2 separate regions of the Homo sapiens genome follow, and region 2 is linked to region 1. Evidence: fine-mapped expression QTL. A gene starts in region 1. The other region holds a variant in brackets. All regions are shown on one strand. Distances are from middle to middle.

Region 1 (8,869 bases):
GCTGGTGTAAACTAGCTTGCTTTACCAGTTATACAAAAGCACAGCACATACAATTAGGCCCACAACATAATACTTGATAATGATAATAAAAGACTATGTTTTAGGTTTATATATTTACAATATTATTTTTACCATTATTTTAGAATATACTCCTACTTTTTATTTTTAATTTTTTTGAGACAGGGTCTTACTCTGTTGCCCAGGCTGGAGTACAGTAACACGATCATGGCTCACTCATGGGTTAAACACCTTTGGGCTCACTTGCAAATATCAGGAATCCTTGATATTGGACAGCCTTGACCTCCCCGGCTCAAGCCATCCTCCCACCTCAGCCTCCTGAGTAGCAGGGGCTACAGGTATGCACAACCATGCCTGGATAATTTTTGTATTTTTTTGTAGAGAAGGGGTTTCACTATGTTTCCCAGGCTGGTCTCAAACTCCTGGGCTCAAGCAATCTGCCTGCCTCACCCTCTCAACGTGCTGGGATTACAAGAGTGAGCCAGGTGAGCCACTGTACCTGGCCTGGGCCGTGTGTACTCCTACTTATTAAAAAAAAAAAAAAAAAGAAAAGAAAAAAGTTCAGTGTAACACAGCCTCAGGCAGGTCCTTCAGTAGGTATTCCCGATTGTTATCATAGGAGATGGCAGCTCCATGCACGTTATCGCCCCTGAAGACCTTCCAGTGGGACAAGATGTGGAGGTGGAAGACAGTGATAGGTCTAGGCTCGTGTGTGTGCTTGTGTCTTTGTTTTTAACAAAAAAAGTTTAAGAATTAAAATTTTTAAAAGCTTATAAAATAAGGATCTAAAGAAGAAAACATTTTTTGTACAGCCGTACAATGTGTTTGTGTTTTAAGCTGAGTGTTACTACAAAAGAGTCAAAAGTTGAAAAAATTAAAAAGTTTATAAAGTAAAAACAGAGTAAGCTAAGGTTAATTTATCATTGAAGAAAGAAACATTTGTAAAGCAAATTTAGTGTAGCCTAGGTGTACAGTGTTATAGAGTCTATAGTAGTGTACAGTAATGTCCTAGGCCAGGGGTCCCCAACCCCCGGGCTGTGGACCCATCCCAGTCTGTGGCCTGCTAGGAACTGGGCCACACAACAGGAGATGAGCAGCTTCATCTGTATTTACAGCAGCTCCCCATGGCTTGAATTACCACCTGAGTTCCACCTCCTATCAGATCAGTGGTGGCATTAGAATCTCATAGGAGTGCGAACCCTATTGTGAACTGTGCATGTGAGGAATCTAGGTTGTTGCGAGCTCCTTATGAGAATCTAATGCCTGATGATCTGAGGTGGAACAGTTTCATCCCCAAACCATCTGTCCGCCCGCAAGTCCATGGAAAAACTGTCTTTCATGAAAATAGTCCCTGGTGCCAAACCAGTCCCTGCTGTCCTAGGCCTTCACATTCACTCACCATTCACTCGCTGACTCACCCAGTGCAGCTTCCAGTCCTGCAAGCTCCATTTATGGTAACTGCCCAGTACAGGTGTACTATTTAAAAAATCTTTTAGACTGTATTTTTACTGTGCCTTTTCTATGTTCAGATACACATTTACCATTGTGTTACAGTTGCCTACAGTATTCAGCCCGGTACCATGCTGTCCAGGTTTGTATTCTAGGAGCAACAGGCTATACACCATGTAGCCTTGGTGTGCAGTAGGCTACCCCATCTAGGACTGTGTAGGTGCACTCTGTGATGCTCCCACAATGACCACAATCACCTAATGATGCATTTCTCAGAATGTAGCCCCGTTGTTAAGCAACACATGACTCTATGAGAAATAAAGCCGCTAAGAACAGTGAAGAATGGTTTACCACCCAACCTCAAGCTCAAAGGCAGCAGGTAAAATGTAACAGTGCTCTTGTGCCATCAGCCCCAGTGGAAGGCAGAACCTGCAGCTTCTAATATGAACATCAAATGACCCCAACTCATTCCCTGTGAGGGCTCCGTGTGTGATCTCATCCCCATGCCTCCTCTGCACTGTCATCTTGGTTTCTGTCTCTCCTTCTCTCACTGCCTTTTCCTGCCCTTTGAGCCCTCTGGCAGGGGCAGAGGCTTAATCTGCTGATCCTTGTCATTCTTTTTTGGATAAAATGATTCCCGATATTTGCAAGTGAGCCTAAAGGTCTTTAACCCATGATAATTTTGTGTTTACACATGTACAAGTCTGTATTTTGAGTCACTGAATTACTAGAAGAGCCAGTGATTACCTAATGGTTGAGAACACAGGCTTTGAAATCAGACCTGGTTCAAATAACTTAACCTTCTGTGCCTCAGTTTTTTAATCTGTAAAGTGGGGAGAATAATCTTGACTGTCTTAAGAGCTGTTGCCAGTTGGGTAGTGAACTAAGCATGAGATTGGGGGTATAAGGTTCAGCAATATTAACTGTTCAAGGAAATTCTCACCAAGTGGTGCAGTGGGACTCTAGGTGGCCTGTCCGTGTCCACTGAAGGTGGTAGATGCACACTTGGGAACAGTGGGCAACAGCAGGGAGCAAGGAACTGGATTTTATGGCAAAGCCCCGCTTCAAACTTGTTGTCAAGCCGGTAAAAAGGAAGCAATACTGCTGGGGAAGGGGCGGCAGGCGCCATGTCCGGCCACGAAGGTGGCAAGAAGCCACTGAAACAGCCCAAGAATGCAGGCCAAGGAGATGGACGAGGAAGATAAGGCTTTCAAGCAGAAACAAAAAGAGGAGCAGAAGAAACTCGAGGAGCTAAAATGGAAGGCCACGGGGAAGGGGCCCTTGGCCACAAGTGGAATTAAGAAATCTGGCAAAAAGTAAGCTGTTCCCTGTGCCTAAGGAGATGGTGACCCTTTATTTCATCAGTATTTAAACCTCTCTATTCCCTGCCATAACATCTTTTGCCACCTATGGCTGGAATTAAGTGTTGTCTTGGAGCTGTTGTACATTTAAGAATAAACTTTTGTTAAAAAAAAAAAAGAAGCAATACAACGAAATGTACAGTACAATGCCATCTGTGTATCAAATGCAGGAGACAGGGGATGAGATGCGGGGAGGAGACCCAAGGCAGGAGAAGCGCCTAGCCCTGATGGTTACCAGCAGAGGACTGAGGAGCGTTATCAGCACCACTGAATGCTCCAGAAGTTCAAACAACAACAACAACAAAAACGCAACACGCGATCAGAGGCGTTTTCTGCCAGTGACCCGCGAACTTTGCCCCCCACCCCTCGTCCCCGCTCCATACTATCCTTGATCTTGGCCAAAAGGCGGAGAAACAGCGAACTTTTCCCTGGAGCCAGAAGGACGCAAAGGTTCGCTAGCGGCCCAGGGCGGGCGCGCGGCTGGAGAGGCACCCTCCTCACTCTGCCCGCTGCCGCACTGGGCACTGGGACTGGCTCCGCTGCCTCCGCCCCCGAACCGGGCCAGGACCCTTGGCGGGGGAGGGGAACGCGCACTTAAACGCTCCTGGCCTGGGGGCCGCGGGGCCCAGTCCTACCCGTGCGGACCCCGCTCCCCCTTCCACACAGTCGGAAGACCCCAAAGGGCCTTTGAAGAGACCGAGGTTGCCAGAGGCCCCCCGCCCCCAGCTAGAGTCTGGAGCCACTAAGGCGGCCGCCCACCTCTCAGGCCTGGAGCGGTTTGGGGCGCCTAGAACTGGGAGGGAGGGACTGGGGATCGAATCCTTCAACGCACTGAGCGGCCCACCTGCCGGTCCCCCGCTGCCTCCGGCCTAGTCCCAGTCGCGTCATGCGCCGCCCCGGAACTGCACATTTACCTTGGTCCGGACCCGCCAGGGCGCGCACTTGGATCTCTGAGCCCCCGGCCGCCCCGTCGGAAGCGCAGCCGCGGGCCCGAAGGGGCCTCCAGGGGCGCAGGAGGCACAGAACGCGCAGCATCGGGGCGCAGGCTGGGAGTGAAGGTGCTTCTCCGGCCCTGCACCGTCTCGGCTCCCGCTGAGAGCTCGCAGTTCCGGCGTCGGGCGAAGCCTTCGCCAATTGCTCCACCTATGGGCCAAGCGTCTGTTGCCTCCTTCCGCACCTCCCGGGGACAGGGAGACTTGAGCGGAGGAGGTCGGGGGAAGCCCAGCTCCTCTGTGTGATTTGGTGTAACTCTGTCAACCTCCCAGCGTCAGTGTTTTAATCCTGTAAAATGGGGATAATAGTGACTACCCCGTGGTGGTGTGAAGATTAAATGGGGTGTGTGAACCTTGCTTGCACATATGCTCAATTTCATTTTTTAAATGAAATGACATTTAATGAGTCCCTTGAGCGTGTCTACACTTGCGAACCTCACTGCTTCACCTCCCATTTGCGCCTCACTTTTTTTTTTTTTTTTTTTTTTTGAGACGGAGTCTCGCTGTGTCGCCCAGGTTGGAGTGCTGTGCCTTGATCTTGGCTCACTGTAACCTCCGCCTCCGGGTTCAAGCGATTCTCCTGCCTCAACCTCCCAAGTAGCTGGGATTACAGGGACGCGCCACCACGCCCAACTAATTTTTTTTGTATTTTTAGTAGAGGCAGGGTTTCACCATGACGAAACCCTGTCTCTGTTAAACATTCAAAAAAATTAGCTGGGCGTGGTGGCGGGCGCCTGTAATCCCAGCTACTTGGGAGGCTGAGGCAGGAGAATCACTTGAACTCGGAAGGCACAGGTTCAGTGAGCTGAGATCGCGCCACTGCACTCCAGGCTGGGCAATGAGCGAAACTGCGTCCCAAAAAAAAAAATTATTCTCTTAAACACAGTATATACAAAGCACTCTCACATTGCTGATGTGAATGTCTTTAAATGAAAAGCAACTGGTAATTTATATCAAAATTATAAATGCACAAGCTCATTGCCCCAGAAATTCCAATTTTAGAAATTTAACCTACAGATAAATCCACACAGCTGTGAAATGACACGTGTTCATGGCTGTACATTGCAGCATTGTTTATAATAGCAAAAGACTGGAAGCACATGGTGCTGTCATGTGCTTCTGGTGAGGCCTCAGGAAGCTTACAATCATGGCTGAAGGTGACAGGGATCCAGCATGTCACATGGCGAGAATAGGAACAAGAAAATTAGGTGGGGAGGTCCCAGTTTATCGCCAAGGGGATGGTGCTAAACCATTCACAAGGGATCTGTCCCCATGATCCAGTCACCTCCCAACAGGGCCCACCTCCAACATTGGGAATCATATTTCAACGTGAGATTTGGAGGGATCCAACACCCAAACTATATCACAGTCTCAATATCCATCAATAGAGGGTTGGTTAAATAAATTATGGGGCTGTGTGTGGTGGCTCACCCTATTATTCCAACACTTTGGAAGGCCAAGGCAGGTAGGTCCCTGGAAGCCAGGAGTTTGAAACCAGCCTGGGAAATATAGCAAGCCCCTATCTCTACTTAAAAAAAAAAAAAAGGTACATCAATAATCTGAATACTATGCAGCTATAACAAAACACAGGAAACTGTTTATGCATTGATATGAAACAATCTTCAAAATCTATTGGTATATGAAACAAGTCAAAATGCAGAATAGTGTGTAAAGAAAGCTAAAATTTGGCCGGGTCTGGTGGCTCATGCTCATGAACCTAGCACTTTGGGAGGCCGAGACAGGAGGATTGCTTGAGGCCAGGAGTTCAAGACCAACCTAGCCAACATAGCAAAACCCCACCTCTATTGAAAGAAATAATAAAGAAAACAAAAATTTGTGTTAACAAGGGGGATAAGAGTATGCATGTGTATATTTGATTGTATTTACATAAAACATCTTTGGAAGGATAGGGAAGAAGAACCGAGAGGCTGGGAATAAGGGTAAGAGAGACAAGTTTTACGGTTTGACCTGTTATACGTTTTTGGACACAGGATGTTGTTGTTGCCCAGATTGGAGTGCAGTGGCAGTATCTTGGCTCACTGCAGCTTCTGCCTCCCGGGCTCAGGTGATCCTTCCACCTCACCCTCCTGAGTAGCTGGGACCACAGGTACATGCCACAACATTGGCTAATTTTTGTATTTCTTGTAGAGACGGGGTTTTGCCATGTTGCCAAGGTTGGTCTCGAACTCCTGAGCTCAGGCGATTTGTCCACCTTGGCCTTCCAAAGTGCTGGGATTACAGGTGTGAACCACCATGCCTGGCCCCTTTTATACTTTTTGAATCTTGATTTTTGTTTTAAGTATAACTTACTCAAAATAAATAATGAAAATGAAAACAAAGCACAATAACAAAAATTAAAAACATGCCTTAGCAAAAATAAAACTAATATATACACAAAATCAAAACATACAAACTAGCCAGGCCCGGTGGCTCATGCCTGTAATCCCAGCACTTTAGGAGGCTGAGGTGGGTGGGTCACCTGAGGTCAGGAGTTCAAGACCAGCCTGGCCAACATGGTGAAACCCTGTCTCTACTAAAAATACAAAAATTAGCCAGGCGTGGTTGTGGGCAGCTGTAATCCCAGCTACTCAGGAGGCTGAGGTGCAAGAATCGCTTGAACCCAGGAGGTGGAGGTTGTAGTGAGCTGAGATCACACCACTGCACTCCAACCTGGGCAACAGAGTGAGATTCTGTCTTAAAAAAAAAAAAGAAGCAAAAACAAAACATACAAACTATAATTGGGTATAAGATTAAAAGAAAAACCTTCCCTCCTCCATATTCCATGCATTTATTGTATTCTATTTTATTGAGACAGGGTCTCACTCTGTTGCCCACATTGGAGTACAGTGGTGCAGTCAGTTCACTACAACCTCAGACTCCTGGGCTCAGGGGATCCTCCCGTCTCAGCCTTCCGAGTAGCTGGGACTACAGGAGTGGGCCACCACACTTGGCTCATTGTTAAATTTTTTGTAGAGACAGAGGTCTCCCTATGTTGCCAGGCTGGTCTCAAACACCTGGCCTCAAGTGATCCTCCCACCTCAGCCTCCCAAAGTGCTGGGATTACAGGTGTGAGCCCCCATGCCTGGCATCCACCCATTTAAAAAGATTTTTCTTGTTTTTTCTTCTTTTTTTTTAGAGATAGGGAGCTATGTTGCCCAGGTTGGTCTTGAATTCTTGGGCTCAATCAATCCTCCCATTTTGGCCTCCCAAAGTGCTGGGATTACAGGCATGAGCCACTGTGCCTCGCTGCTTTTTGTCTTTTTGTATTAACAGAAAAGGTCTCACTATGCTGTCCAGGCTGGAGTGCAGTGGCTATTCACAGGCATAATCGTAGCTCACTGCAGCCTTGAACTCCTGGACTCAAGCAGCCTTTCTGCCTCAGCTCCTCAAGTAGATGGGATTACAGTCTCGTACCACCACACCCAGCTTAAAATGATATTTATTGTATTTTATCTGGCATTTCTGGGTGTTTTTTTTTGGTATACTTATTCATGCCACAAAGTAAGTGGTACTTATATAAGTGTACAGTGATTTTCCAGGTTCCTTTCTAACATAGCTTGCTTAAATTCACAGGTCGACTAATGTTTCATTTCATGTGCATGCTAAGTGAAGCTGGTTAGTGATGACCATAAGCAGGTGGAGAAGCTTTCAATATTTTACTTATTTTATCAGTACTCCTGATTTTATAAATGATGAGGCTCATTAACCCCATTCCTACTCAAATCTCCTGATAAACTTGGTTATAATAGGGCTTCATGGGGATCCAAACATTTTTAATAATGTTTTGAAGCATCTTGGTGTGGGACAAACAGCTCAGGCTACCCCAGAGCCCCACATCCAATGACTTAGAAAAGTCTGTGTTTTATAGTGGGAAAAGTTTGGATTATTTAGTCCTTCACATTGGAAAGGGAAGTGTTTTTTCTCAGTCTTTTCGGTATTAACAAATACCTTTTATATTACTATCTATCCCCTCTGCCCTCTATGGACTCTTATTTTGAAAGCAATATCCAGTGGACAGCCAGGATTTGTTACATAACAATTAATCTTGACCTTAGGACTTGTTGTTCTATTAGGTTGGTAACTTTGTCTGATCCACCAATCATATTGCTGTCTTGTCAGTCCATCAGTTTCAAGAAACAACTGTACATGTCAGTGCCCTGATTTGTGTTTGTTTTTCTTTTTTTTTTTTTTTTGTTTCGTTTTGGTTTTTTAGAGACGTGGTCTTGGTATGTTGCCCAGGCTGGAGTGCAGTGGCTATTCAGAGGTGTAATCATAGCACATTTGTAGCCTTGAATTCCCAGGCTCAAGTGATCTTTCTGCCGAAGCCTCCTGAGCAGATGGGAGGCGTGCATCACTGAGCGCAGCAATTTTACTAAGTTGGTCTAGTCCTAGCTCAGTAGTTCTTTACTTAGCACAGAGGGGGCTTCTTAGAATCTCCTAAACTTGATCTTAGCCAAATGGCCAAGAAGCAATCCTTAGAATCTTCTAGGAGAGCCTTTCTAAATGCTGATACTGCAAACCGAAAAGTATATGAAACGGATCTCAATTAATTTAGAAGTTAATTTTGCCAAGTTTAAGGACGTGCATCATCTTTGGAGACAGGTCCGTGCCTTTCTCCAAAGATGATTTTGAGGGCTTCAGTTTTTATAGGGGAAGGGGCAGATATTGGGGAAAGATGAATAAATTTTAAAAAGATGTGGGTAGATAAGAGGCAAACGGTTGCATTCTTCTGAGTCTTTGATCAACCTTCACATGTGAGGGGGGTAGAGAAATAGTCACTTATGCATTCATCTAGCTCAATGAATCTGCATTTTTACATAAGATAAAATAAACCGGGGAGCCGGGCGCGGTGGCTCACGCCTGTAATCCCAGCACTTTGGGAGGCCAAGGTGGGTAGATCACCTAAGGTCAGGAGTTCCAGACCAGCCTGGCCAACATGGCGAAACCCCATCTCTACTAAAAATACAAAAATTAGCGGGGCGTGGTGGCGCGCGCCTGTAATCCCAGATACTCGGGAGGCTGAGGCAGGAGGATTGCTTGAACCTGGGA
Region 2 (8,964 bases), 140 kb before region 1:
ATACAAAAATTAGCCGGGCGTGGTGGCGGGCGCCTGTAATCCCAGCTACTCAGGAGGCTGAGGCATGACAATTGCTTGAACCCGGGAAGTAGAGGTTGCAGTGAGCCGAGATCGTGCCACTGCACTCCAGTCTGGGCGACAGAGCAAGACCGTATCTCAAAAAAAAGGAAAAAAAAGAGAAAAGACGTAAAGTAATGGAAGTAAAGAAACTTTTATTATTATTTCAACAATCTTAGAAATTCTTCATATGTACCCTTGTGTCATGTGACATATATCAATACTGTAGTCTAATTCATTTCAGACTCTTGTAGCATATCCTATTAATGGTTGAAATGTCAACCATGATACATCCCTTCATTTCCTCAAAGCTGCATATTCCAATCTGAACGTTTATAGGCTTTTTTGTTTTTTTTGATAGAGTCTCACTCTGTTGCGCATCATGGAGTGCTGTGGCACAGTCATGGCTTACTGCAGCCTCAAATTCGTGGGCTCAAGCAGTCCTCTTCAGTCTCCCAAGTAGCTGGGACTACAGGCATGCACCATCACACGTAACTAATTTTTCTTTTCTTTTATAGAGACAGGGTCTTACTATGTTCCCCAGGCTGGTTTTGAACTCCTGGGCTCAAGTGATCCTCCTGCTTCTACCTCCCAAAGTGCTGGGATTACAGGCATGAGCCATCATGCCTGGCTGAATATTATATGTTTATATACAACTTAGTTACTGAGTAATATATTTTTAAAATATTTGATTACTTTTGTGTCACACTGTATAATGTTACTGCCAAAAAAGACTAAATCTTCCCCTTATTATGAGATAGTCGCTCTGAATGACGTTTTTTGGCATTTTTTAAAACTTTATTGTAAAATAAAACAGAGACAAAGGCAGTAAATAATTATATAGCTTAATGAGTTGAAAATAAAGTGAACACACTTGAGACCATCACTCAGGTTAAGTAACAGAACTTTGTCATCTACCCCAAAGCTCGCTTCAGCCTCCCAAAGTGGTGGGATTACAGGCGCGAGCCACTACACCCAACCATGTCCTTTCATTTCTTTATAATTTTATGACCCAACTATTTAGGCACCTGTATAATCTTGTCTGTTTAAAACAATTTGATGTCTTTTGAGTATCTTTTAGTTTATAGGTTTCTCCTCATCCCTTTCTTTTCCTTATAATTTGTTTATTGAATAATCTATCGTTTGGATTTGTAGAGTTTCCCTCAGTCTGGATTTTATTGTATTTGTTGATGTTTTGTAGAGACAGGGTCTTGCTGTGTTGCCCAGGCTGGTCTGGAACTCCTGGGGTTAAAGTGATGCTCCTGCCTCAGCCTCCGAAAGTGCTGGGATTACAGATATAAGCCACTCTGCCAGCCTGGATTTTGCTGATTGTATACTAATGGTGCATCTTTCTCTTTGTATTTTCTGCAAATTGGTAGCTGGATTTGGAGGCTTAATTAGACTTACGTTAGATCCCTTTGGCCAGACCCTTAGGTGTTGTATTCTTACGTTATGAGGTACATAAATATCTAGTTGTTTCTCTTTCTGTGATGTTAGCAGTTATTGACACTTAGTAGCTAGATCTATCAATTCATTGGGGATTATGGTGATATTTTAATCATTTATTTTTCACTTACTAGTTGGATTACTTTTATAAAGAGCCACTTTCTGCTACCTACGTTTGGTTGCCGAATGGCACCTGAACTACATTTTAAGATAAGCGTATTATCTTAAAATAATATACTTTTATGTTGGGAATCCCTAGAAAGACTTAATTTTAAACAGAACCTCTTGGTGCTGAAAAGGAGCGTGATAAATCTGGGGAAATTAATTGATACATTTATTTGATGAATACTTATGGAGAAAGTATTCTGAGCCAAGCATAACGCTAGCTATTGTGGTACAATGGTGAATGGATCAATGTAGTGGGGGATTATGATAATAGCTCTGAAAGAGATGTTTCAGGGGACCTAACTTAAATCAGTGGCTCAACAAAGACTTCTCTAAGAAAGTGTCCTTAACTTGAATAAGGAAGAATGAGTAGAAATTAGTCAGGTAAAGAGAGAAAGGAAGTTTTCAGTCAGAGAGGACATTGTATGAGTGGTCCTTTGCTGAGAAAAAGCTTGACTTACGGAAAGGTGAGGAAAAAAGGTCATACAGTTATAACATTGTGAGCTAGAGGGAGGGGATTAAGAGGCAGATAGGATCCTAATCAAGCGGTAGGGCCTTATAATAGTGTTAAATATCTTGAGATCTATTTTAGGTATAATACAGAAAATTTCGCCCATGGTCTTATGCTAGGTTCTGAGCCTATCTAATATACATCTCTTCAAGACAGATATAGCTGTTTAAGATGACTAATCTGGATAGATTGGAAAGTATAGTCATTTTTATTTGATCCCAGCTTTACATAACTATCCAAGATACCATGTATACAAATGATATTTATTTATTTATTTAGAGACAGAGTCTTGCTGTGTTGCCCAGGCTGGAGTGCAGTGGCGTGATCTCAGCTCACTGTAACCTCCGCCTCCTGGGTTCAAGCGATTCTCCTGCCTCAGCCTCCTGAGTAGCTGCAGTTACAGGCATGCACCACCGTGCTTGGCTAATTTTTTATTTTTAGTAGAGATGGAGTTTCACCATGTTGGCCAGGGTGGTCTCGAACTCCTGACTTCACATGATCCACCCACCTTGGCCTCCCAAAGTACTGGGATTACAGGCGTGAGCCACCGCGCCTGGCCACACATGATAATTAGATAGAGAAAGAGAGAGAATTCTAAAAGCTAATCTGGTTATGTTCACAGGTGTCTGGGGAAGCCAATGAAACTCAGATTGCAGAAGCACTGAAGCGTTACAGTGAACGGGCATTCTTTGTTCGGGAAGCTCTATTTCATCTTTTTAGTCTGACTCATGTGATGGAAAAAACAAAGCCAGAAATTTTAAAGGTAAGAATAAGAAACTGGATATGAAATTTTTGAAATGATCTCCCTGGGCAGATGATTTTTTGAAGAAAATTGGTGAAAATTTGCATTTAGTCTTTTTTTATTATTTATAATGTGATTGATGACGTGTGATTTCAATCATTAGCTATAAACGAGAGAGAAGATAGTTGTACAATGTTATTGAAGCTTCACAATAATCTCATTAAGCAATATAAATGTCTTGTAGTACATATTTATCTACCTAAAACCAGTGACTACCATGATATTTTATCACCAGCTACTGTAGAAAATGAAAGTATATGACTGGAATCAGGACACTGTATTGTATATTAACCCTATATTGCTTCCCAAATAGATTTTTTAGAAATACAATATTGCACCAAATATGGTAGTTCATGCCTGTAATCCTAGCACTTCAGGAGCTGAGACAGATGGGTAGCTTGAGCCCAGGAGTTCGAGACCAGCCTGAGCAAGATGGCAAAACCCCATTCCTACAAAAAGTATTAAAAAAATAAAAAAAAGAGAGAAGTAAAGACAAAGCAAATATTGAAATTCTATAAGGTACTTTTCCATGCTGTTTAGAACCTACTATGCATTCTTAACTGATTTACATTACTCCGCAATTAAGTTTTGTTTTGTTTTTAAGACATAGGGTCTTACTGTGTTCCCCAGGCAAGAGTGCAGTGGCTGTTCACAGGCCTCAAACTCCTGGGCTCAAGCAATCCTGTCTTAACCTCCCAAGTAGCTAGGACTACAGGTGTGTACATCACAGCACCTAGCTATTTTAACCAAAACAGCTTTTGAAGGGCAAGAAAGGAGATTTCTTAATTTTATTGAATGCTTTGGGCAACATTTATCAAAATGTGGTCCTTTGGGCCAGGACGCAGTGGCTCACACCTGTAATAACTTTGGGAGGCTGAGGCAGGTGGGTCACTTGGGGCCAGGAGTTCTAGACCAGCCTGGCCAACATGGCGAAACCCCATCTCTACTAAAAATACAAAAAATTAGCCAAATGTGGTGGTGCACGCCAGTAATCCCAGCTACTCAGGAGGCTGAGGCATGAGGAACCTGGGAGGCCGAGTTTACAGTGAGCCGAGATCGTGCCACTGCACTCCAGCATGAGCAACAGAGCAAGACTCTCTCAAAACAACAACAACAACAACAACCAAAGTTGTCCTTTAACCACTAGAAGTCTAGGATGTTGCTTATTTAAAAAGCTTATTTGTGGCCAGGCATGGTGGCTCACACCTGTAATCCCAGTACTTTGGGAAGCCAAGGCAGGCAGATCACTTGAGCTCAGGAGTTCAAGACCAGCCTGGGCAACATGGCAAAACCCCATCTCTACAAAAATTACAAAAATTAGCCAGCTGTGGTGGCACGCACCTGTAGTCCCAGCTACATGGGACACTGAGGCGGGAGAATTGCTCAAGCCAGGGAGGCAGAGGTTACAGCGAGCTGAGATCATGCTACCACACTCCAACCTGGGTGACAGGAGTGAAAACTTGTCTTAAAAGAGAAAAAAAAAAGATATTTGTAAACCCCACTCCCAAAAATTTAGATTCAGTAGGGCTAGATGAGGCACAGGAATCTACGTTTTAATAAGCCCCCAAGATAATTCCAAGGTAATTCTTACGCACGTTCAATTTTGAAAACCA[A/G]TGAGCTTAGGACTCTATTATATTTGGCACCTCATTTAGTGGGCACAATTCCAAGAGATGGGTTTTATCTTCTGTTTTACAGATAATGAAATTGAGGTTCTGTGACGTTAAGTAATAATAAGTCAGTGGCAGAGCCACAACTTGATATCCTACATATCTTAAATTCTGAGAATGAGGCGCTTGGGTAGGAACCAGTAACATTTTAGTCCTTAGGATATTATCACCAACACCTGTCACTCCTTTTATATATATCAGAGGATGTTGGCACTTGGTATATGAATTGTCTTTTTTTTTTTGTTTTGATTACTGTGAACTGAGCAACAGAAGACTAGATCTCTAGTCTTGATCTGAAATATTCATTCAGACATTCAGAGAATGATTCAGAGATAAATGGAAGAATATAGGCTATTTATTTATTTATTTATTTGTTTATTTATTGAGGTAGCATCTCACTCTGTCACCCATGCTGGAGTGCAGTGGCATGATCATGGCTCACTGCAGCCTCGACCTCCCTCCTGGGCTCAAATGATCCCCCTTCCTCAGCCTCCAGAGTGGCTGGAACTACAAGCTAATAACACCATGCCTGGCTGAATTTTAAAATTTGTTATTATTATTATTGGTTTTTTTGTAGTGATGGAAACCCACTGTGTTGCCCAGGCTGGTCTCAAATTCCTGTGCTCAAGTGATTCTCCCGCTTTGGCCTCCCAAAGTGTTGGGATTATAGGAGTGAGCCACTTTTATTTTATTTTTTTAAAGATACAAGATCTAGCTGTATTGCCCAAGCTGGAGTGCAGTGGTGCACGATCATAGTTCACTGCAACTGCAACCTCAAACTCTTGAGCTCAGCAATCTTCTGCCTCAACCTCTCGAATGGCTGGGAGTATAGGTGTGTGCCATCACACCTGGCTAATTTTTCAAATTTTTAAAAATAAATTTATTTATTTATTTTTGAGACAGTGCCTCACTCTGTCACCCAGGCTGAAGTGCAGTAGTATGATCATAGCTCACTGTAACCTCAAACTCCAGGGCTCGAGCAATCCTCCTGCCTAAGCCTCCTGAGTAGCTAGGACTACAGGCCCATGCAACCACACCGGGCTAATTTTGTAGAGACGGGGGTCACACTATGTTACACAGGCTAATTTTAAAAAAATTTTTTGTAGAGGCAGGTTCTTGCTGTGTTGCCCAGGCTAGTCTCGAATTCCTGACCTCAAGTGATCCTCCTGCCTTGAGCTCCCAAAGTCCTGTAATTACAGGCATGAGCCACTGCACCTAGCCTAGGCAATTCCTTTTTTTTTTTTTGAGACTGAGTCTCACCCTATTGCCCAGGATGGTGTGCAGTGGTGCTATCTCAGCTCACTGCAACCTCTGCTTCCCATGTTCAAGCGATTCTTCTGCCTCAGCCTCCCGAGTAGCTGAGATTATAGGCACCTGCCACCACGCCCAGCTAATTTTTATATTTTTAGTAGAGACGAGGTTTCACCATGTTGGCCAGGCTGGTCTCGAACTCCTGATCTCAAGTGATCCACCTGCCTCGGCCTCCCAAAGTGCTGGGATTACAGGCATGAGCCACCATGCCTGGCCAAGGCAATTCTTATAGGGAATTTTGCTGCAAAGGGGAGCAAAGAAAAAAGATGGTAATCGTTTGAGGAAGTGAGATTAAAAGAGGGATGTTTTGATTTTTTTTAATAGGAAAAATATATCTTGTTTGTATCCTGATATGAATGATCCAGTACAGAATAAAAAATTGATATAGGAGTAGGAGGGGTGAACAGCTTCCTTTCAGTAGACAAGAAAATAATTATCTAACATATACATGAAGGGATTTGTTTTACAAAGGACCCCAAAAGATTCCTTATGGTAGCAGGCAGGAAGGTGACATGTATATGTACGTATGCTGGTAAGTAGGATACATGTGGTAATGAGAATCTGAAGTTCTTTTCTGGTTGCTTCAGTTTTCTTTCTTTCTTTTTTTTTTTTTTTTTCTCTTTTCCTTAGAGGCAGGGTCTCACTCTGTCCCCCAGGCAGAAGTGCAGTGGCACAACCATGGCTCACTACAGGCTCTGCCTCCCAGGGCTCAGGTGATCCTCCCACCTCAGCCTCCCAAGTAGATGGGACTATAGGCGTGTACTACCATGCCCAGCTTTATATATATATATATATACACACACACGTATATGTATACATACGTGTGTATATGTACATACACGTGTGTGTGTATGTACATACACGTGTGTGTATATGTACATACACGTGTGTGTATATACATCTATACATATATGTGTATATACATCTATACATATATGTATATATACACATACACACATATACACACACACACACATATATATATATAGAGAGAGAGAGAGATGGAGTTTCACCGTTGTCATCCAGGCTTGAGTGCAATGGTGTGCTCTTGGCTCACTGCAACCTCTGCCTCCTGGGTTAAAGCAGTTCTCCTGCTTCAGCCTCCCGAGTAGCTGGGATTACAGGCACGTGCCACCATGCCCAGCTACTTTCTGTATTTTTAGTAGAGATGGGGTTTCACCATGTTGGCCAGGCTGGTCTCAAACTCCTGACCTCAAGTGATCCACCTGCCTTGGCCTCCCAGAGTGCTGGGATTACAGGCATGAGCCACCATGCCTGGCCCCCAGTGAATTTTTGTATTGTTTTATACAGATGGGGTTTCACCATGTTGCCCAGGCTGGCAGTTTTCTTAGTGTAGTTGAAAGCAAGATCTTCAGCTGATAGTGAGGAATGGGAAGGATTCGTTGGGGGTTTGAGGGCAGAGGAAAAAGTGAGAAATAGTTGTCTAGGCCAGGGAAAGTGAATGGATTTTATTGCACTTTAACCTCAGCAGTGTTCTCAAGGAACTGAAGATTGAAATTTGAGAGTGGAGTGTGCTCTATTCAAGTCAGTGAGAATTTATTCACTGCCTTCCATATAACAGGCACCATAAGTAGGTCTTGGAAATACAAAGATGAGTGACCTGTGTGAAAAAGATTCATTAACTTTACAGAAAACCCCTAGATATGAATAGCTGAATACCTGCCTTGGTGAGGTAGACTGGAACTATTTGTGAGTAACTGCTATATCCTAGGCTCTTTGCACATGAGGATGAAAAAGAAAATTATGACATCTTTGAAATTACTATAGACCAACAAAATAATTCTGCTCTGTGAAGAGGGCTTGTATTTATAAGGTGAATTAAGAGGACTAATTTTTTTTTTCCAGCTTGTGGTTACTGGGATGAGAAACCACCCTATGAATTTGCCAGTGCAACTGGCTGCAAGCGCCTGTGTATTTAACTTAACCAAGCAGGATCTTGCTGCAGGGATGCCTGTCCGACTCCTGGCTGATGTGACCCATTTGCTGCTCAAAGCCATGGAACATTTTCCCAATCACCAGCAGGTAAGCTTATGTGAATTCCTTTTCAAATAGTCCTTGTAGTGTCTTCTACTCATCTCCTACAGTTCAGTTTAATAGACCAAGGCTGGAAATTCAAATGCCTTTGGAGGCTGTGGTATGACTGAGTGTAAGAAAACAGAGAAGTGGACACCAAAGGAGTATATTCCGTGCCTAAAAGCACCTAAATCCATATATTGGGGGACATAATACAAGCCATACAAAACTCATCTTCCTCCTAGATCTTGAGTTTGTGATCATTTCAGCAGATAGGCACAGAGGATCTGTTCTGGGCTAGGCACTATCAAATGCTGGGATACATAAATGATTAAGACATGTCTTTTCCATTTCTAGCAGTATGGTAGAAGATGTAACCTGTCTTATACTCAGGATGAATACTAAAAATGTTGCTTAATTTTTTTGTTTTTTAAACAGAGTCTTGCTCTGTTGCCAGGCCAGAGTGCAGTGGCGCGATCTCAACTCACTGCAACCTCCACTTCCCGGGTTCAAGTGATTCTCCTGCCTCAGCCTCCCAAGTAGCTGGGATTACAGGCGCGCACCACCACACCCAACTAATTTTTGTATTCTTAGTAGAGACAAGGTTTCAACATGTTGGTGAGGATAGTCTCCATCTCTTGTCTTTGTGATCCGCCCACCTTAACTTCTGAAAATGCTGGGATTACAGCCACCTCACCCGGCCCTTAACTTTTTTTTAGGTCATTTGAAATTGACCATTGAGTTGGCAAGTTAGTAAAAAATACTCAGAGGCTCAAAACCAAGTAAAAATGGCAAGCCACATTGGTGAGTAGATCATTGAAGCCAGCTTCCCTCATTGAGGGCAGTTGCCAAACTAGATGAAATTTAGGCTTTGATTTTCGTGGCCTCTGGAAGCCCGTCAGACAGAAGACTCCTAGCATAAACTATGACTTCCTCCCCAGAGATACATTCTTACAAAAAGGGAGCTATAA

Alleles and levels. Alleles are on the strand shown, and positions count from the first base shown. SD is a standard deviation of normalised expression in the study named.
As copies of A replace G in region 2, the expression in transverse colon of the gene that starts at base 3,930 in region 1 goes down (small effect, 0.26 SD a copy in GTEx).

The links.
Region 2: its variant is fine-mapped to the expression of ECHDC2 in transverse colon (GTEx, PIP above 0.99).

The regions. Positions count from the first base shown.
Region 1 is chr1:52,917,811-52,926,679 of GRCh38, forward strand. It overlaps ECHDC2 (enoyl-CoA hydratase domain containing 2), which reads right to left and starts at 3,930. Exons shown (of 10, transcript NM_001198961.2): 1 at 3,743-3,930. The coding sequence starts at 3,863. It also overlaps the pseudogene LOC112268226 and the pseudogene LOC100652967. RefSeq lists an enhancer at 3,633-4,315 and silencers at 3,650-3,828, 3,677-3,906.
Region 2 is chr1:52,777,052-52,786,015 of GRCh38, forward strand. It overlaps ZYG11B (zyg-11 family member B, cell cycle regulator), which reads left to right. Exons shown (of 14, transcript NM_024646.3): 4 at 2,802-2,942; 5 at 7,826-8,002. Among named protein-coding and RNA genes, the nearest start is that of ZYG11B, 55 kb to the left of the region's middle. The variant A/G (reference allele first, on the strand shown) is at 4,595.